Regions from separate parts of the Homo sapiens genome. Here all the other regions are linked to region 3. Evidence: fine-mapped expression QTL. A gene starts in region 3. Each other region holds a variant in brackets. All regions are shown on one strand. Distances are from middle to middle.

Region 1 (5,323 bases), 980 kb after region 3:
TGGGCCCTGGAGCATACAATTTAAGGAGGCCCTTTCGTTCCCTGTGGTATAAGGGCAGGCACCTGAGCACCTCCTTAAATTTTTTGCCTCCTGAAATTTTGTGCCCTGAATGCCTCATTTGCCTCATGCTAGTCCTGACCTCCACCATCCCCATTTTCTGGAAACTGACAGCACTGCAAATGTAGCAGCTTTCTGTCCAATACTATTGCCATCCCTTAGCATATCCCTCAGCTGGGCTGAGAAGGCCTTCACCCACGCTTCCTTTACCCTCTTGAACCCTGTCCATTCTTCCAACCCACCTACAGAAAGAGACAAGGGTATTTAAATTATAAACAAATTTTCATTTAATCAACACTAAACAAAACAAACAAAACCTAAACATTTCTACTCCGTCGACACTAAAGAAAACAAACAACACTGAAGAAAATAAACGGAAACCAAACATTTCTACTCCATCGACATAGCCAAGTTAAAAACATTTTTTCCTTTCAAAATTTGCCAAGCTAACTCATGGTATAAAGACATGTGACATTAATTTCTAGCATTCCTGAGCTGGGCAGTATTACAGCCCTCTCTGGATTTGAAAAATTAAAAGTATTCTTCACTTCAACTCTTAGGAGAGCCAATTCTCAAAGGGCAGCTTGCTTTGTTTGTGGAGCTGGAGTGGTGGAGAGAGGTCAGAGCATGAAGGGAATGTCTCCGTGGTTCTCCTAGGATGTGATGAGGGCTCACTTGGGAGCTCAGGAATCACATCAAAGAGCCCCAGGAGGATCTGAGGAATAAAGATTGAGGCTGTTGGAGAGTCTAAAACATAAACAAGGGCTGCAAAATTAATAATACAGCGTTCAGTGCATTCTTTGGAACACAGGAAAGTTGGAAGGCTGTTCTTGTGGATACTAGCAATTCTTTCCAATGCTGTCTCTACTTTTAGAGAAGACCCTGTCCTTTGGCCTTCTCTTTCACCCATATAGTGTCTCTCTCTGTTTAATACTAGTGGAAAGCTGTTTAATACTAGTGAGATAAAATTCTTTCTTTCCTTCCTTCCTTCCTTCTTTCCTTCTTTCTTCTTTCCCTCCCTCCCACTCTCCTTCTCTTTTTTCTCTTTCTTTTTCTCCCTCCCTTCCCTCTCCTTCCCTTCCCCTCCATTCCCTTCCCTTTCCTTCTCTCCCTTGCTTCCCTTCCTTTTATTTTATTCAGAAATGCGTGTAATCCCAAATCTGAATAAGGGAAATTGATCATATCATCCCTTGCTTGTCATTAGAAAACAATTAGTTCTCAGAACTTAAATTTTTGGACTGAAGTGATTAAGGTTGAGGCCTGTTGATATGATGACAGTGAATTCAGCCTAAATATTGCCTTTTTGGAACACTCCAGGTAAAGTAGCTTCATCCTTATCACACTTATCACTGTCTGAAACTCTTACTGTTTAAGAGTTGATTGTCTGTCTCTCCCATTAAAAGGTAAGCTCATTGAGAGTAGCATCTTTGTTTTATTCCTGGCAGGATCTTCAATTAACGTCACTGTGCACATTGCACAGTAGGCAATCAATTAATATTGACTGACTGAATGAATGAATATATGAGTGAGTTGTGTTCTAATCATGGATAATCCAAGTAAGCAGTAATACAGTGTTTGAGTTTTTTCGTTTAGTAGTCTTCTGTCTAAGGTGTATTTGGATACATACACCAGGCAGAAGTTAGGCACTGAGGTTAAGGCAGTGGACAAGACCAACATAGCTCCCACCTTTGTAGCAGTTAGAGCCTAGTAGAAAATGAAAGCAATCAGCATGTAATTTTGGTGAACTGCATGTTTGCAAGGTATATCTTTAATTTGGTTGGTTTGTTTTGGAGGCAAATAATTTAGGTATAACTTGAAGGCTGCTAGGTATATCTTGACAAAGTTTTGAAAGAAATCCAGGGCTTATGGAAGGGCATATCAGTTAGAGATTGCTCTTCCTGCATATATTAATACCACCTTTTGCCAGAACATAGTCTCGGGGACACCTCAATGCAAGAGATGCTGAGAACTGTTGGCTCACGCCTGTAATCCCAGTACTTTGGGAGGCCGAGG[C/T]GGGTGGATCACGAGGTCAGGAGTTCAAGATCAGCCTGGCCAACATGGTGAAACCCCATCTCTACTAAAAATACAAAAATTAGTCAGGCATGTTGGTGGGCACCTGTAATCCTAGCTACTTGGGAGGCTGAGGTGTTGCGGGAAGTCAGGGACCCCAAACGGAGGGACCAGCTGGAGCTGCAGCAGAGGAACGTAAATTGTGAAGATTTCATGGACGTTTATCAGTTCCCAAGTAATACTTTTATAATTTCTTATGCCTGTCTTTACTTTAATTTCTTAATCCTGTTATCTTTGTAAGCTGAGGATGTACGTCACCTCAGGACCACTGTGATAATTGTGTTAACTGTACAAATTGATTGTAAAATATGTGTATTTGAACAATATGAAGTCAGCGCACCTTGTAAAAGAACAGAATAACAGCGATTTTTAGGGAACAAGGGAAGACAACCATAAGGTCACACTGCCTGCAGGGTCAGGCAAAAAGAGCCATATTTTTCTTCTTGCAGAGAGCCTATAAGTGGACGTGCAAGTAGGAGAGATATCCCTAAATTCTTTTCCTAGCAAGGAATATTAATATTAATACCCTGGGAAAGGAATGCATTCCTGGGGGGAGGTCTATAAATGGCTGCTCTGGGAATGTCTGTTTTATGCAGTTGAGATAAGGACTGAGATACGCCCTGGTCTCCTGCAGTACCTTCAGGCTTACTAGGGTGGGGAAAAACTCCGCCCTGGTAAATTTGTGGTCAGACCAGTTCTCTGCTCTCAAACCCTGTTTTCTGTTGTTTAAGATGTTTGTCAAGACAATGTGTGCACTGCTGAACATAGACCCTTATCAGTGGTTCTGTTTTTGCCCTTTGCCTTGTGATCTTTGTTGGACCCTTATCAGTAGTTCTGTTTTTGCCCTTTGTCCTGTTCCCTCAGAAGCATGTGATCTTTGTTAGACCCTTACTAGTAGTTCTGCTTTTTGCCCTTTGAAACATGTGATCTTTGTACCTACTCACTGTTCTTACACCCCTTCCCCTTTTGAAACCCTTAATAAAAACTTGCTGGTCTGAGACTCAAGCGGGCATCACGGTCCTACCGATATGTGACGTCACCCCCGGCGGCCCAGCTGTAAAATTCCTCTCTTTATACTGTCTCTCTTTATTTCTCAGCTGGCCAACACTTATGGAAAATAGAAAGAACCTACGTTGAAATATTGGGGGTGGGTTCCCCCAATACTGAGGCAGGAGAATCACTTGAAACTGGAAGGTGAAGGTTGCAGTGAGCTGAGATCGCGCCACTGCACTCCAGCCTGGGCAAAAGAGTGAAACTCCATCTCAAAAATAAAACAAAACAAACAAACAAAATACAAAAATTAGCCAGGTGTGGTGGTGGGCACCTGTAATCCCAGCTACAAGGCAGGAGAATTGCTTGAACCCAGGAGGTGGAGGTTGCAGTGAGCCGAGACCCTGTCATTGCATGCCAGCCTGGGCAACACAGCAAAAGCTCTGTCTCAAAAAAAAAAAAAAAGAAGAAGAAGAAGAAAAAGAGAAGGGGGAATTTATCTGCCTTGCTCCCTCCTGCTTCCTATTGATTGAGGCTCATCCCACAGGAAACAAACCTCTTTCCCCTTTCAGGTTGTGTCAGCTGGCCTGCTTGGGTTGGTCACATCTCATGCTCTGAGACTGGGTGTTTTATCTAAGTCCATCAGTGGAAGAAGGGTGGCTTGGCATAGGTAGGATTTCATTCAAGAGAAAAAAAAAAATAGGTGGTCAAGGGAATTTGAGAAAGTACACAGCCTTCTGTCCTCATTACAGGCACATACAGACTATGATGGGAACAAGTAGGTTCAAGAGGACCTACATTGGTCTAAAGAGTCAGCTGAGCTGACTCAATATATCTTCTCCATTTGGGTTGCTGAGGAGCTAAAAAATATATCCTTAGTGTTATTCTTAAGCATTATCACATCATTGAAAACTACAATAAAACACTGAAATGTATTGGATCCCTGAAAAGAGCATGAAGTCAGGAGTTTTTGATGTAGGGTGTCTCTTAACTATAGCATTATTGTCATCTAACACAAGCTGAGGATTGGGCATGGTTCACTGGAGATACCAAAGATGCATGATATTGTCATGGCCTTCCATTGAGAAAGAAAAATCTAAACAAATGAATAATGACACAGTGTGAGTAAGGGCCAAATGATTGGTGGAGAATTCAGAGGCGGGCAGGATCTCTGTGGTCCAGGGGAGAGGAGAACATGTCATGGAGGTAGGCAGATTTGATCTGGGCCTTGAAATAAAGGTGGACTTTGGTGTGTTTGACGTAGGAGGAAGGGCGTTCTGGGTTGGGGGCAAGGCACAGACAGAAATATGATTGCGGGGAAGTACATGGTGACCAACAGCAACCGAGGAAGAAGCAGTGAATATCTGCCTTTGTCTGGAGAAGAAAAGAGTGAGAAATGTAGCTATAAGGATCTTAAATTGTGAATATTCTTAAATACTGAGAAATGGAGTGTGGATTTTTTTCCCTAAATGCAATGGAGAGTCAGCGAAGGGGGATTTTAGGACTCACAGAATGGGAAACTGGAGGGTGGAGAAGGGGAGTTGGAAAAAGTCCTGTTGTGGAAACTCTCCCTTAATAAGGACACTTCACTGAGTGGGTCACACCAACTGCTTCGTCAGAGAGGGGATAATTGAGTTGGGGGAGAGCTTGGGGCACGCACTTTGCAGGGCGTAAGGTACAGAAAGGAAAAGCAAGAGGCTGGTGATAACTTTTCTATGTTGTTGTTTTGCCAAGTGATATGATCTGTGTCCCCACAAAATCTTAGGTTGTATTATAATCCTCAGTGTTGGAGGTGGGGCCTGGTGGGAGGTGACTGGATCTTGGGGGCAGGCGTCTCACGAATGGTTTAACGCCATCCCCTTGGCACTATTCTCATGATGCTGAGTGAGTTCTCCTAAGATCTAGTTGTTTAAAAGTGTGTAGCACCTCCTCTCTCTCTCTCTTTCTTGCTCCTTCTCCTGCCATATATTAGTTGGATGCCATTAAAAGTAATGGCAAAAACTGTGATTACTTGTGCACTAACCTAAGACGGTCTGCTCCTACTTTGCCTTCTGCCATGATTGGAAGCTCTCTGAGGCCCCCCCAGAAGTGGATGCCACCATTCTTTCTGTATAGCCTGCAGAACCGTGAGTCAGTTAAAACTCTTTTCTTTACAGATTGCTCAGTCTCTGGTATTTCTTTACAGCGATGTGTGAACAGACTAACA
Region 2 (5,323 bases), 230 kb after region 3:
AGACACATTATAAATCCTTGATGATACTGTTGGCTGAAGCTATGCAAGCAGAAAAGGCAAAACCCATACCTAGAACATGTGTCAATTCTAGTCAAGATAAACAACTGCTCCCATCTAGAGTGGAAGGGGCTCAGCATGAACAACCAGCCATCAGAGGGATGGCTGCCCTCCTTAAAGGATGGGTATTGTATTGGGGCTCAGCATTGCTTTCTGTTGCACTCAAGTTAAATATTTGGCAGCATCAGTAAGTAGCTAGATCACTCTTGGTGAATGGAATCTTTTTACACGTTTTCCATGCTGCCACCATAGCTATTCCTCTCATGCACCCAATTTTGCCAGCACAGGAGTGGCCATTGAAGAAGATGGCTGATGTCAACTAGACTACTACTTGGTTGGACTACTACCAATGATTTGGACTACTTGGTTTTTGAGTGCCTCCTCCACAGCAGATGCTCTCTGGTGAGCGTTAACTTGCACTCAAAAATCTTTACATTCCATGCCCACTCCTAGAGATCCGTCCATGTGCCTCTACCCCTGTCCCCAGTCTTTTCTTTCTCCTAGGCCCCTGACCAACTAGCCAAGCCATTTGCTATTCCCGTGACTCCATGTTTTTTTCTGGCCTCTGCTCTCTTTCCACATAACGTGGATGACCTCATAGCCTGATGTTTGCCTTGCAATGATTTCCCTCATTACTGTCTTAAAGGACCACCAGCACGGGGCTGTATGGCTGCAGTAGTCCGTTAATGGTTTGCAGATACGTATTGAACCAACCCATCTTGAGCCAAACTTGGCTTTTTTCCTCCTCCATCAGTTGGTTGTAAGGGATTCACCCCTCACCCCATCGGCCATCTGCGTGAGCTGAGGAAAAGTTCTTCTGTGACAGTAGTGAATGACACGGGAGGGTCTGCACCACCTGCTCATACAGTCTGCGTAGGCCCTCTGTACCACTTCAATCTCAGGATGGATTCCTACTAGGCCCCCTCAGACATGTGGCTGAGTGTCTGACAAGTTGTGTGATCAAATACTCTTTACCAAACCCCAGGGGCAAACCAGGAGCTGTTTCCAAATAGTATGTAGTTCTCTGTTGCAAATATATAAACCGTAGCATATAGTTCTCTGTTGCCTTACTTCAGAACCCTATGGGTCTACATTGTGATTCTCCAGTTAGGTTTACCATAAACTCTATATAGCATTTTTTCTCAATCACAGATAATTTGAATACCAGATTGTATGGACCAAGTGACAAGACTGCTTATATCACACCCTGGACTGGCTGTGGAGCTATTTTCTCCCCTGGGTCCCACTCAATGCTGGTAGCTTTCCATGTGTCTTGGCAAATGGGCCAGAATAATGTTCCCATGAATGGACTATGCTGACCTCAGAACCCAGGTTGATTGTATAGGACATGTGATTCCTTTTGAGTCCTTTATTTTGAAGACAATGTCCCAGCAGGCTCCTGAGTCTTGATAGCGTTTATCTCCACCAGACTTCCCAATTCTTGCTCATCCAGTCTGATCGACATAATGTCATCAATGTCATGGATGAATGTAATGTTCTGCAGCATGTCCAGAAGGTTCAGCTTTCTTCAGACTATCTTTTGACAGAGGGCAGAGAATTAACATAACCTTGGGGCAAGGTCATGTTAATGCATAGGGTTATTCACCTCACGAATGCAAACTACTTCTGGTCCTCATTTTCTACAGGGGTGGATAAGAATACACTTGCCAGATTGGCTGTATGCCAGGTACCTGATACACTGTTAATTTGCTCTAGGAAATATACCACATTTGTATGCTTTTTGCAGGGCCTGACTGAAACCCACCTTTGCAAAAATTATAACTGAGGAAATTATGACAGTGAAAGAGATCAGACCCAACTGATTCCATCTTGCTTCTAACCTTTAAGCTGTCCTTGTTCATTCCTGGGCATAGACTAAGCTAATCCTGGGAAGGAATTTAGTTTATGATTTGACTCTGAAACAAAATTGATACTAGCCTTTCCCCTAAAAAACCTACCTCTTGCCTAGGGACCAGTCTGCCTTTATCGGACTAACAAACCAGCTACAAGATTAGAAATTACGGTTTAGGGGTCATGCAGCCTCTGGCTGCAAGAGTCTGAGCCTCCCCAAATTGCTCCTGAGGATAACATCACTATTGTAAAACCTAAGATCAGTGCTTGAGGTATTTGGCAGACCCTGTGCTCCCTGGATCAGCTGACATCACCCAGACCAGTAATCTGGCTCAGCCATTTCTGCCATCCCACCCAGAAACAGAAGACAGCAGGAAAAACTTACTTCCACCCCCTATGATTCCATCTCCAACCTGACCAATCAGCACTCCCCACTTCCTGAGACCCTACCTGCCAAATCATCTTAAAAAACTCTGATCCCCAAATGCTCGGAGAGACTGATTTGAGTAATAATAAAACTCCAGTCTCCCACACAGCTCTGTGTGAATTACTCTTTCTCCGTTGCAATTGCCGTCTTGATAAATTGGCTCTGTCTAGGCAGCGGGCAATGTGCACCTGTTGGGCAGTTGGATGACTAGTGATTCAGTTGGAATATGGAGGCCACCAACCCTCTCCTTTAAGTCTCTTCTAGTCCCCACAGGATATATTAATAGTATTGTTGGTGATTTACCATCTTGACTGGAAGTGGGGAGAAATTTCATAGATTTCCACTTGGCCTTCCT[C/T]AATGTGGTTGACTAACTAGTTGGTTCACCTAACTGCCAAATATGTCCATTCTGCTTATATGCTTAATGGGAAATAACCATGGGACAGTTCTATGACCCAGTGAGCCCACTGCGAGACCTGCACCAGGACCTTCTTAGCTGCTCCCCATAGGGCCTCCTCACCCTCCATTCTCCCTGGTGGTGGCTTGGGTGTCCAATATCAATTAGCTCAGGCCTTGTGTCTGTGTCCAACCAGTCCTCAAAGTTTCTGGGTATTGCCCTTGGCCCACAGGTCCTGTGGGGAAGGCTAAATAAAGGTAATCATACCATATACATTGCTGTGGCGTTGCAAGTTTCTGCTGAGGGCCCAGCTCTTCTTTCAGCTACCAAGTTCTAGGTCTGAAAACTGGCCCAGGTCCAGAAACTAGACAACAGATTGTGACTTTTTATGAGAGTGCCTCCCTCAGCCTCCTTGATTGTGCAGATTGAGTGAGACCCTTGGTGGCTGCCCACATATCTATCTTGACCTTCAGAGTGCCATGTTCTATTAACAATTGTCATATTCTGTCTGGGCCAGGCTGCTGTGACTGCCACCCCTTGTTCCTTATTACAGTAATTACATACACCTGGTTTCTGATGCCACGCGCTTCCTGGCCTCTGTTAATTTGAAACCCCATCATCCCGTGGCTATAGGGAAAGCGAGTTCTATAAGAGCATCTGCTATTCTCAGCCCTGGTCTACAAAGGACAGCCACCACTGAGCTTCTTCAATAATGCTGGTGCCCCTCTCATCAACACATTTTTGATCACTTTACTAGTCAAAGTATTCTTTCTAGGCCTCCATCCCATGGAAGGTAATTGGCTGGTGGGTTTTCTCACCTTATATAAAATGCCTGTTTTATCAAGCCCACTTCTCTGGGCCTTCGGTCCCTTTCTCTATCACTTGCCATGGCAATTCTGACAGTGCTACTTCACTTAGTATGGGCTAGTGCTTTTTCCCAGCTTCTAGGAATCAACCTAGCAGCATATTTGCATATAGGAGCTTTGACAGTGACACGGGAGAGTTCTCTGACCCCCCCTCGCAGGACGTGCAACAGGGGTGTGGCTTGTCTGTTTGGCCACAGCCGCTGCTCAAACCCCTTATGGGAGGGGGAGCACACAGACAGGCAGGTGCAGGAGCTGGGGCGAGTGTTTCTGGGCTGTGGCCCCACAGCAGCATCTAGGGGTGGGCGCCTGTGACCCCTGAAGCCCAAGTGGGCATGTGTTACAGTGCGCTCTTTTAGCTTTGCCATCCACCAATGGCTTAAGTGTTAAACAGCTTAGTAGACTCTCTGCCTTTTCACAAGGGCAGAGGGCCAGTGTGACAGCTTTCTGTATCTTGAGCTCTTGTCCAGTGTCCTGAATCAGGTGACACACAGACTTGGAGGATGGTGAATGTGGGGGTTTTATTGGGTGGTGGAGGTGGCTGTCAGTGGGATGGATGGGGAGCTGGAAAGGGGATGAAGTAGGAAGGTGATCTTCTCCTGGAGTTTGGCTGTCCTGAGGCTGATTTCCTCTCCAGCGGTCCCCAGCTGAACTCCTCCCAATGTTCCTTCTCTTCTCTCCTTCTCTGCTGCTCTTCTGTTCATCTGCTCATCTACTCCTGGAGCTGGGGGTTTGGGGTTTATATGGGTACAGGATAAACGGGTGTGGCAGGCTAAAAGGCAACTTTTGAACATGAAAACAGGAATGCCTGTTCCCATTTAGGGCCATGGGTATCCAGGCTTGAAGGTGGGACCTTTGCCAGGGAACTGCCCTCTTCTACCCAGTATTTCCCTGTCTCCTGTCCATATCAGCAGGATATTCATCTTGTATCATAGAAGAATGTCCTCATATTAATAAACTCTCTATTATCCAACTTTATATTCTATTTCTCTAGATTCAGTGCCCTCCAGATCCCACCCCATAAATATCCTCTCTGCTTCTGCCAGTACATGCTGGCTAGGCCCTATAGCGTCTTTGATGTATAGTCTCCTTCTCCCTCAAGGGACCCAGTACATTCCTGGCCTGGTTGTGTTGTGGCTTGACTGTAGCTTTTAGCCACGCAGGGAGGTGGGGATAAGTTATGAAAGGCATGAGGAGTCTTTGAGTTGTCTTCAAGCAGAGGGGTATGGGTCACATCTGCAGGCCAGTGTTTGGAGGACCTGGGGTTTCAAGAACCTCAAGTTGAACTGTGATGCAGTTATGACAGAGGCTTCAGCCAATCTCACAGATAGCTCTAGAGCTGCCATGATTCCCATCTCAAGTCTCCCTCCCAGCTGGGGCCTTGGCATAGTGGACTCATCTAAATGGAGAGTCCAGTCTTCTCTGGAGCTCCATTCACTTCTGAGCCTCAGCTGCTTCTGCCCTCTGGTTGAAGAAGATCAGGATCTCTTTATATGCTACCAAGGAGGCCTGTTGGACTTCAACACTTTGTCCTCGCAAAGAGTAACTGCCCTTGGCCTTTTGCTGTCTTTCTCCAGTGCAACCATAGCCCTCAACCTGTGAGGAGTGAAGGAAGCACTTTGGCCAGAGGGAGAAGCTGAACTGCAATGCAGTCACCACAGAGGCCTCAGCCAATCCCATAGGAAGTTCTGGGTCTCTGATGGTCCTTCAGAGTTGTCTGGATTTGAGGTA
Region 3 (5,323 bases):
ATTATTAATGGCTTCTATGCATGGCTAAGAGGGTTAACACTTAGCAAAATTAGTTCCCTGGATTTTTGTCCTGCTGTTATATTTTATGGGCATGATGGAGTGTGCTACCTTGAGTAAACCATTTAACCTCTCTCTGCCTTAGCTTCTAGTTTATAAAATAGGAAGCTTGTTGTGGCAGGCAGTATTCACAAACATTTTGAGAGCTACAGAGAGCGCTGTAGGATTGTCTTTCTCCCCGCCCCCTCATTCCCCCCCATCCACCCCGTCCCAATGACTGAGTCAGTCATTTGGAAAGGTCAGCTTTTTCACTGGATACTCTCAATTGCTACTCCCTAAGTCAGTTAATTAGTATTTTTCTAAAATGCTCCTACCAGTCCAGAGCTGAAAGATGTAGTCTCTAACTGCTGTTTCTACTCTCTGGGCCTGCCAATCCTGCTAACCCCTTTTCACCCAATGGCTATTGCCATGTGACTCACACCTCAGGTTCTGGGATCAATCCCAGTCATTTTGGAGGGCAACTAGAGCTTTATATTAACACTCTGGGACTTCAACATAAGGCAACCATGCTCAGTGTGAAGTTTGGTCCTAGTTCTAGGTATTAGGCTCCTGCTTTGTTTGTAAGTCTCACTCTGTCCCCCCAGATCCAGCCTTTGAATATTTGTTTTGTCCTGCTGGGTCCTCAAACTTGGGCCTCCAGTGAGTATCTCAGTAGCTCAAGGATCTGAGTTCTATTTGTTTTCATCAATTCCCTGTAGAAACGAAAGGGCAGACCTAGAAAACCCCAGCACTGAAGCTGGGGCCTTGCTATAAGCAACACACTTTCTCAAGGCTTGCCGTGATTTCCCAATTTTTGCCCACTCCTGGATTTTCCAAGGCTATGTGTTCCAGCTGTCCATTGGCTTACAACACCCACATTCTCTGTTTAACAGGCCTGATGCCGGCTGCCTTCCTGGCCTGCTGCCGGTTCCATATCCTCCAGATACTGCATTCTGGCTGAACGTTTATCACGCCAGCTGGGTTGGCCTCCGATTCCACGGATGTATCTGGTTCTAGTTTCCATTTCTCCCCATCCACCTCACCCTCATTACAGTTAATCCTTTTATATTAAACCATAGCGGATCTTTGCTGTTGTGGAAACTGATGTGGTATTGGAATTTTATCCTTGTTTACATCTTTCTTTGTGTTGGAAAGGTTGGGATTACTTCCAAAACCTTCCCAGAGAGCTTTCCTGTCTCCTTTAGGGGAAACAAATGAAAACTTGACAATAGCTGGTATCTATGACACCAGCTTCAAGGCCACTATTTTAATTGTAAAATTGCATTATTTAATCATAATTTTGCTTTTAGATATACAAATATATTTTAAAGTATATTTTGTCCAGTGTTTACTCACAGCTCTCAATTTCAAGGTATCTTACTGGAACTCAGTGGCTTTGTGGTTATAAGGACATAAACAAATCAAGGCTAGGGATGGTGTGGTGTTCTACAGTGGTAAGCTACATTAGAATCCTCCGGAGGACTTGTTAAAACAGATTGCTGGGTACCACCCCACAGAGTGTCTATAGAATGATGCCCTAAGAATTTGCACTTTGACGAAAACTGGTCATGTATTTAAGCTGGTCACAGATAACCAGAAGGTGCTGAACTGTTCTTAATCAATTCAAACTTTTACCTGAAATGGATAATAAGGTGGAGAGCCTTGAGAAATGAACTTCCAAAGTTCAGTGCATGCAGTTAGCATGACTGCTGGTTTTAGAGTTCTCAACCACTTATTGCTTATGAGCAATAAGTGGCCATAAGCATTTGGCCAATCACTTACTTGAGTTTACAGGTTTTCTCATCCATAAAATAACAATAGCTGCTATGCTGCCCTCAAAGGGTTGTCCTGAGGTCTGAATGGAATGGGTGTGATAGTGTCTGAGCAACTATAAAGTGGTATGGCACTGGGAGGTATTGTAACGGTTTTTCATTACTCTTCTTAAAATATCACCAGTTTCCTTTGGCTCTTGTTTCCCTCATTAATTATAGCAACTGTAATCTGGGAATACACAGTACTTTTATTGCCATAAAAGCCAAACTTCAATAAACTCAAATTTCAAACTTTTCTATAAAATTTTATTCAGTGAGATCAGACACGCCTTATAAACATTACACAGAGCCAAGAATGATTCCGTTTTTACAGCTATAAAAAGAGATCTACAAGACCCTATTGTAATTTGGGGTGGCGTCACGGTTAATCTTTTTCAACCCTGTTTAGATTGGCCCATTAATAAAAATGGCTGCTAGTTACAGCACATTTAAAAATACAATCACCGCGTACAAATGGTAACCTGTCCACTCCATACTTCCATGTCCTGTGCCGCTTCTATTAACTTGTCTTTGGAAGTAGTAAATTCTCCCAGTCTGGACGTGGCTATTTTTTCTCACACACGGGCCAACACAGTTCTTGCTCAACTTGGGTGCGTTTATGACTTTTCAACAGTGTCATCAGCCGTACCTAACTCTTCCAGGCCTTCAGTATCTCAGGTGTTAGCTTCAGTTGTTCCTAGGTCTTTCACAAATATCATAAATGACAGGCAGGACGCTTTTCTGGAGTCAAGATCTGTTAGTTTCGGAGTCAGAAAGACCCCGTTTAGAGACTCGTAGGCGAACTTGCCAGGGGGCCTACCAGGGGCAGAATGGGGTCCTCCGGACCAGCCAGCCGCGTCTCAGCCACCTCCGCAGCCCCCGGGGCCCTGAACCCCGGCCGCGTTGACGCGCGCTTCTCCCGGACGTCGGCAGGAGGCGCCCGCGGCGGACCAGGCGCGGCGCGCACCGTAGCCGGCCCAGGGGGCGGAGGGAGCGGAGAGGAGGAGCTGGAGGGGGCGCGGCTTCCTCTCGGTCGCTCCCTGGCGCCGGGCCTCTTTCTCTGCCTGGCCCAGGGCTGGCGGCCGGCGGGGGTCGCGGCGGCGGCAGTGGGGGCGCTGGCGGGCCGCGGGTGGCGGGGGCCGGGCCGCGGCTCCGGGTGTTAGGAGACAAGATGGCGGCGGCTCTCAGAAGGCCGGTCTCCTCCTCTCCGCCGTCCTCCGCCCCGCCGCTCGCCGCCTCCTCCTCTCGGGTCTCCTCCTCCTCGTTTGCTGCCTCCTCCTCCTCCTGCAGCAGCACCAGCGACCGCCGAAGCGCCGGCTCGCTCACCCGGAGCTCCGGAGGTGGATAGACGGGGCAGCTGCAGGCTCCGGCGACCGAGGCCGAGCTGGGGCCGGGGCGGGGACGGCGGCGGCGGCGGCGGCGACGGCGGCGGCGCCGGGTGGGGATGGGGTCGCAGACGCTGCAGATCCTCCGACAGGGGGTGTGGGCCGCGCTCAGCGGGGGCTGGTACTACGACCCGCACCAGGCCACCTTCGTGAACGCGCTGCACCTCTACCTGTGGCTCTTTCTGCTGGGCCTGCCCTTCACCCTCTACATGGTGAGTGTGGGGGCGGGGAGCGGGTGGCTCCTTCCCCGCGAGCCGGTGGGGAGATGCTGGGGTCGCGCCCTCTTCCTCTTCCACGGGGTCTCGTCCCCCGGGGGCCGCCACCCTCTCGGTGTGAGGCTCCCCGCCCCCACTGCGTGCTCCCACTCCTCTCTTCGGGGCTTTCCTGGTTTCGGAGGTGACACGAGCAACGAGCCCACGGCAACCCGCGCCGGCCGCCCCCGCCCGCTCACTGGGAAGCGGCAGCGTCCTAGGCCCCTTCTCGGGGTTCCCTCCTGCGGCCACTCGGCTAGGCCGTCCCCGCCGGGGCCCCCCGCCCGTGGGGCTGTGTGGCAGGCGCCGAGCGCTCTGCGGCTTTAGGGGACGCCGCATCCATCCTTGGCACGCTGGGTTCCTCGGGCGCCCGGCATCCGGCACTGCCCGCCCCCGCCGCGGCCCTCGTCCGGGGCTCCCGGGAGAGGCCGCCCGCCGCCTCGCCGCTAATCCGCGTGCGGAGCCCCGGGAGCGCGGGGGACCGTGCGGCTCTGCTCCGAGTGTGTGTGGGGGTCGTCCGGGCTCGTCCTCCAGGGGTCCTGGGTGGTGGCTGAAAACCCGGCTCGGAACCCTCCTGCCTCTAAAAAACCGTTGTTGTGCTTCGCAGCGGTTCTTCTCTGTTCGGCCCCGTGGCCGGTGGCCGTGGTGCTTCCTGGCCTCCCTGGGGGGAGGGAGCGGGGAGATAACGGGGAATCTGGCTGGCATTTCAGCAGATTTGTTTGGCTTGGTTCAAGGCCTTTGGCGGATAGGAGTAGGGAGAGAGAGTACTGCCTGTTGCTGAATTCGGTGCGATCAGCTTCTCTGAATCATCTGTGTTTTTAAAGCAACATTGAAAGTTGTTAAGCGCAGTTTCTAAAGCACAGGTTAGGGTGGGGCGTTAGGGAAACTCGTGTGGACAGAGATGTTACTTAAGGCTTCATATAAAATTTTAAAGTAGTCAGAGGGGAGGAAAGGATCTGAACTTTTTATTTTAGGAGAATTCCTTTGAATGTATTTCTGCTAACTTTGAGGTTCTTTGTGGAGCTAGAGACAGGGTGCTGAGTTAGAAAATCCCGGAGGACCACTATGAGAAGTGCAAAAGGTGAGGACACCCAATTCTTCCCTAAGTGAAGTTCAGTTTCACTAATTGGCAGGAAAAGTGTCTGCTTGAGGGAAGATGTGCACATTCTCAAGCAGATTCACATTTTTCGTTGAAATTGTTTTGAAGGGACTTATTGTTTGAGGTTAAAAAAAAAAGCCATTAAGAAATGCTGATGGCTTGTGGCTTGTTTTATTAGGGGGACTTGTTCAGTCTTGTTGCATTCTGAAAATTTATCGTGAAGTATTATAATTTTCAATTAATTTTGGCCTAGGGAGTTCTATTTGCACTACTATACCTTCCAGGAATATGACATCATTAATGAACGGGTTAATTACTTTGGGTTTAAGAATCCTCAGGCTGTCACAAAATTTTCAAAGCAAATTTCTTCTATGTCCAGAAGAATTGTAGATTTAAAACTGAAAATGATTTTTGAGAGGTAAGGATTAGTTGCTGGGTCCAGTGTAAGATTTCTTTTTTAACACTTGTAGTAAACTGTGTGGTCATGGTTAAGTCTCTTTGTGTAGTTAGCAAATGTTACTGAAAGAATATTAGAGCAAATGGAAACCAGGACATTGAGTTTACTTCCTTCATTTTGGGAGTTCAGTTAAACTGAATTCTCACATATTTGAGTGTCTACCATGTACTAGACACTTTCTGAGATTGCTTCTGACTTCCTTATCTCAATTAATGGCAGTCCCACTCTTCCCAAACCAGAAGGTGCTGAGCTGTTCTTAATCAGTTCAGACCTTTACCTGAAAT
Region 4 (5,323 bases), 22 kb after region 3:
GATACTCTCTTGCCATTGCCCCTGCCGTCTCACCTGCTCCTTCACTCTCGCTACAGAGATGCAGCATTTACAGTCTGTGTATATCCTGCCCATTCCAGTTCAATATGAACAAAATTTGTACTGTAGCCCTTATGAATATGTAAATAGCAGCAAGAGAAGCACTTGCTGCCAATTGGCTGCATGTTTCAAGGAATGTAAACCTCTTTTGGGAGATTTTAACCTAACTTGAAACAGCAGTGCTGTAGGCCTCTAGTGGGTAGAAACCAAGGGGATTTTAAACCTCCTATAATGCACATGACAGCGCCCCACACCAAAGGATTGTCTGGCTTTAAGTGTCAACGGTGCCCACAGCGAGGAACATTGCCCCAGAGTTTATGTTCTCAGTGGGTGTGGTGTTACCCTCAAGGGGGCAGAAATTAACTCTTGAGGGATGCATGTGTGAAAAAAAAATCTTATTCTTTTTACATATAAAGTACAGATGTACATGCAGCACAAACAAGTGTGCAGTGTATCTGGTATTAAAATTTCACAGGGAGCGTGATGAGGAAAAGAATGTCTGAAAAGGCTACTTAGGAGGACAATAATGAAGAAAATGGGTGAGAAACACTGCATTGGAGGGAGACAGTATAGTTTAGTGCTTAAAAATGCAGGCTGTGGAGTCAGACTGGGTATCGCTTCACTTTCTGCCGCTTACCAGCTGTGGGCATATGACTTCATGGCCTCAGTTTTCTCCTTTAAAATTAAGATAATAACAGTACTTTCTTCAAAGGATTGTGGCAATATAATCCAGTGTATGTAGTGCTTGGTAAAACACTAAATTTGTCATTCTCCTAAGAAGCTCAAAGAGAGAAAGGATCATGTTTATTTCCGTATTAACATTCCTTAGTAGAATATCTGAGACTTAATAGGTGTTCAGTAAATTGTTGCATGAATGGATCAAGCTCCTGTTCTGTAAGTGTGTCTTAGTTGCCTTTATGGTGGTAGTAGGATATGCTCTTCTACGTTTTTAAATTTTTTTCTGTTAGGCATCTTTCACATTTACTTCACCTTAAATATAGTATGTTAAATGTGCGTAATTGTAGTACTTCTGTTTAAAGGTAGAAATGGATTATACAGCATGCAATAGTATCATTCTGTTTCAAGCAAATTGAGCTCAGGGCAAGTGTGATGGAAATGATATTTGGGTTCTGGTAATGCTCTTATGAGAGCTAATATACTTTTTACAGTTTATATATCTTATTGATTTTCATTCTCTCTCTTTTATTTATTTATTTATTTATTTATTTTTTTCTGGGAGGCAGTGTCTCACTCTCTTGCCCAGGCTGGAGTGCAGTGGTGCGATCTTGGCTCACTGCAACCTCTGCCTCCCAGGTTCAAGCGATTCTCCTGCCTCAGGCTCCCTAGTAATTGAGATTACAGGCGTGCACCACCAAGTCTCGCTAATTTTTATATTTTTAGTAGAGACAGTTTCACCATGTTGGCCAGACTGGTCTCAAACTCATGACCTCAAGTGATCCTCCCACCTTGGCCTCCCAAAGTGCTGGCATTACAGGTGTGAGCCACTGCGCCAGGCCTGATTTTCATTCTTGTGTTAGAATTCAGCTTGCGGTTTCTTCTACTAAATGTTAGTGAAACAGAAAAGAATATAAGCAAAATAATTTTTGATCTAATTTTTGTATATATTAATATTTCATTTTAAAATATTTATTTTTACTTAATTCTCATAGTTTGACTCTTCCTTTGACCTAATACTTTCATTATTGAATTATTTTGATTCTTAAAAGCTTTAAATTTGAGTTACTGTTATTATTTTGTGCTTGCTTATTATACTACGTCTATAAGAATATAGTTATACTTTTATATAGGAGCAAGGAGAATCTCATTGTTTTTAATGTATTTGCTCATAAGGTAATCCCATTAAATGTATCCTGAACTGGCATTTTGTGAGGTATGTTAAAACAATAACCTAGCTGCTATTCTTCAGAATTGCAGTGTCATGTTGACAGAATTTGTTAATGAATGCTTACTTTTACTTAATTGTGAATCCTGAAAAAATGTTGCAATAGAATATATCAGGAACAAATGGGAGAAACAGGATAGGTAAAGCTATTTAAGTTGGACTTGCCATGAGACAGCTTTGGTCCTCATATTTACCATTTAGAAATTCAGTGTTTATCAATTTACTGTGGGATTTACTTAGACTGATAAATAAAAGAGTGATTTATACAGTAAAATATTGTTACTAATTTACAAAAGGAAATATTAATGAAGATAGTTCTTAGTGTAGGGCACCTTTTCCTTTTTCCAGAATGGTTAGGTTTACTAAGAAAATCACATATAAATCAAAACATTGTTAGTGCCTCTCAAGTTATATTCCTATATAGCCATTCTTTCAGTTTTTACTTTGGGAATTTTGGGGTAAAGAATGGCATGCAGTCTCCAGATGATACCATCCGGATAATACTGGGAGACAAATCTGTACCAGACTATTTCTTTAATATGCATACATACCTCTACCTTTCTGCTTTATTTTAATAACCAGTTATAATTCTCAGACATAGCAGTTTTTAAAACCGTTACACTTTTGGCTTGCTGCTACTTGATGGTTTGGGAATAGGTACCTTAATCTCATCAGAAAACCATTTCAACACATAGGATAGGATGAGTTAGTTTTGTAAAAGGTTTTTGTGAATCACCATTTCTATCTATAAAGTTTAGATTGTTGGGTATGTTCTATTC[C/T]GGGGCCTCTTTGTTACCTTCATTTTTGAAAAATTTCAAAGTGTGCTATCTTTAACAAATGCTTCTAGATAGGAATTGTTTGGATACCCTTTTGGGATTACATGAAAATTATTATTTCTTTTGTTCTCTACAGTGATCTAAAGATGCTTTTGGAAACTCGGGGAAAGCTCTGCTGTACATTCAGTGTTTTTTTTTTTCCCCTCTTACCGTCTTGCTCTTGTTTTGAAGCATTCTATCTCTAGTCTACCATATGACTATATATATTTGATTATTAGGCTAGGTGCCCCCTGACCCAAAAGTATCCCTCAGCCAAGAAGGAATTATATTATCTGACTTATTACAAAGTCTTTTGTATTACTTTCCACTTGCCCAGTTACTGTTTTTCATCCAGTTGTTTTTCTTGTGTGTGTTTGTAGCAACATGACTTGATTTTTAAACAGTTTTTTAAAATTTAGCATAGCTAATCATAACTGTTACTAGGGTTATAACTTAATAATTTGCAAGTGTTGGATGTCATTAACACTTGTTGGATTAAGTTAAAAAGTAGCTTATGGAGATAAGAATATGTACTTATGTGATGAGTGAAAAAAAGAAAAGTTGTCCTAATTAAGTACAAATGGACATTTGGTTACACAGAATTCCTAGGAACAGCATCATACAGAAAGTGTTAGAACTCAAACTTATACTGAAATGATGATGTAGATGTGCTATGTAAACCTGTGTTAGGTAACTCATAATGACTTCTGTGATGAAGAAACTTCTGTTGCTAAAAATATGTGAATAAATTGGACAAAATCATTTCATGAAATAGAGTAGAAAGGATATACGTAACATTTTAATTATGAGGACATTGACTTTCACCAGAATTTATAGATTCAAATTGTATAAATGATTTTCTTTCTTTAAATAAAAGTATAGGAAAAATTCTATAATGTACATAAGATTATTTTAGTCCATCAGTATACATCCTCACATTTATTTGTTGGGTTTTTTTCTTCATCCCTTATTTTTCATGTCTGTGCCCTTTCTTCTCATGCATGTGTGTGTGCCTGTGCATATGTTGTGTGTGTGTATGTGTGTATGTGTTTGTGTGTTTTTAAGGGACAGGGTCTCCCTATGTTGCCTAGGCTGGAGTGCAGTGGCTGCTCACAGGTACAGTCATAGGACACTGCAGCCTTGAACTTTTGGGCTCAAGCAGTCCTACCACCTCAGCCTTCCAAAGAGCTGGGGCTACAGGCGAATGTCACTGTACCTGGCTTCATATGGATCAAGCTGCTCATCTCTAACTCCTGGCTTAGTGACTTCTGCCCTGAGTAATAGACTCAATCTCTGTTGCCGATGAGTTGCATGTGCTATGTTATTTTAGTCTCTTTTCAGCTAGGTGATGTGGCATAAATTTTGACTGTTACCTCCCTAAGAACAGCATTCTATTGTAGCTAAAAATATAAATATTAATTCAAATGTAGGTTATGGAGTGACAAACAGATTTTTAAAAGATAGATACAGATTTTTAAAAAAGATAATATCTATTATTTTTAATTCTATTTATATTAAAATATTTATGTAGCAGACATTTGCAGAAATACAGGTAGGCTCAAGTTCCAATAGCTCACTTGTAAACCAGTTGCCTTTGGGGAAAATGCACTGTGAGTTTGTACACAGGTTCCCAGCTGGCCCTCTGAAATTAGTTTGGCCCTGTGTAGTTAGCTCAGTAGAATATTATGTTTTTTTTTTTCCTTTGGGAAAGTATGCCTGAATCTCAACATTGAGAGTACTTTTCTCCTTTTCCTCTGCAGCTCCATCCTCTGAAAGGAGACTTCTAACTGGAATGCTTTACCTCAATCCCCAAAGGAGACTGTGGCAAGAGGGCTAAATCCCTGGAGCCATGGCCATTGATATCAGGGCCTTTTCTGAGTCCTTTGGGGGGCAGCTTATATATGGAAAACTGTAAGCCTTATTAAAAACATTCATATTCTTTCTGATCCCTCTTAATTAACATTTTCTAAATTTATAGGTAATATTTGAGTACTAAACCCTTCTTTCTCCCTTCTCACCAGCATTCTCTCCATCCACCAAGAATGAAAGGTGGGAGAGCTATGGAACTGAATTGCAAACACTGCAGGAATTAACTTGCCCATTTTCTTTGGGAAAAAGCCAAAGGGGGTTTTTCTATCATTGTGAGTAAGTAGAGGTGTTCCCAACTCCCCACCCCTTCAGGCATACCAGTAAAAAAGCTAAAACTTGAGGCCAATTGGCCATCTTAAGAGCTTTACAAAAAAATGGTTAATTCTTTTTCCCATTAGTAATTTGCCCACAATGTAAACAGCCATAGGATGGACTGATTTTTAGGCAGACAGTAGAAAGAAGGCAGCACTGCTATTGTTACAAATGTTTAGTTTTCATCTCCTGAAAGAGTGTTAAGAAAAGTTAGTCCAGATATACTGATGGATGGAACTTACAATTTACGATAGGATTAGTGTGCCCGTTTGTGTGTTTTCCCCATGTCTAGGGCATAAGGCATACTGCTTTCAAATTCTGCTAATTTTTGTTTTCATCTGCCAGATTTTTTTGGTATTATTTAATT

Direction of the effects. Positions count from the first base shown, and alleles are read on the strand shown. Sizes are in standard deviations (SD) of each study's normalised expression. Not every link is listed here.
For the expression in whole blood of the gene that starts at base 2,900 in region 3, allele C in region 2 goes with a lower level than allele T (small effect, 0.13 SD a copy in GTEx).
For the expression in adrenal gland of the gene that starts at base 2,900 in region 3, allele C in region 4 goes with a lower level than allele T (small effect, 0.25 SD a copy in GTEx).

Evidence for each region. PIP is the estimated chance that this variant, and not a neighbour inherited with it, causes the effect.
Region 1: its variant is the best candidate, but not a certain one, in a credible set for the expression of PCNX1 in sigmoid colon (GTEx, PIP 0.78).
Region 2: its variant is the best candidate, but not a certain one, in a credible set for the expression of PCNX1 in whole blood (GTEx, PIP 0.56).
Region 4: its variant is the best candidate, but not a certain one, in a credible set for the expression of PCNX1 in adrenal gland (GTEx, PIP 0.81).

The regions. Positions count from the first base shown.
Region 1 is chr14:71,884,852-71,890,174 of GRCh38, forward strand. It overlaps a transcript of RGS6 not described here. Among named protein-coding and RNA genes, the nearest start is that of RGS6, 45 kb to the right of the region's middle. The variant C/T (reference allele first, on the strand shown) is at 2,071.
Region 2 is chr14:71,132,819-71,138,141 of GRCh38, forward strand. No RefSeq gene overlaps it. Among named protein-coding and RNA genes, the nearest start is that of SIPA1L1, 180 kb to the right of the region's middle. The variant C/T (reference allele first, on the strand shown) is at 2,691.
Region 3 is chr14:70,904,560-70,909,882 of GRCh38, forward strand. It overlaps PCNX1 (pecanex 1), which reads left to right and starts at 2,900. Exons shown (of 36, transcript NM_014982.3): 1 at 2,900-3,444. The coding sequence starts at 3,292. RefSeq lists silencers at 2,803-2,992, 3,213-3,552, 3,713-4,052.
Region 4 is chr14:70,926,314-70,931,636 of GRCh38, forward strand. All of the region lies in intron 1 of PCNX1 (pecanex 1), which reads left to right. Among named protein-coding and RNA genes, the nearest start is that of PCNX1, 22 kb to the left of the region's middle. The variant C/T (reference allele first, on the strand shown) is at 2,740.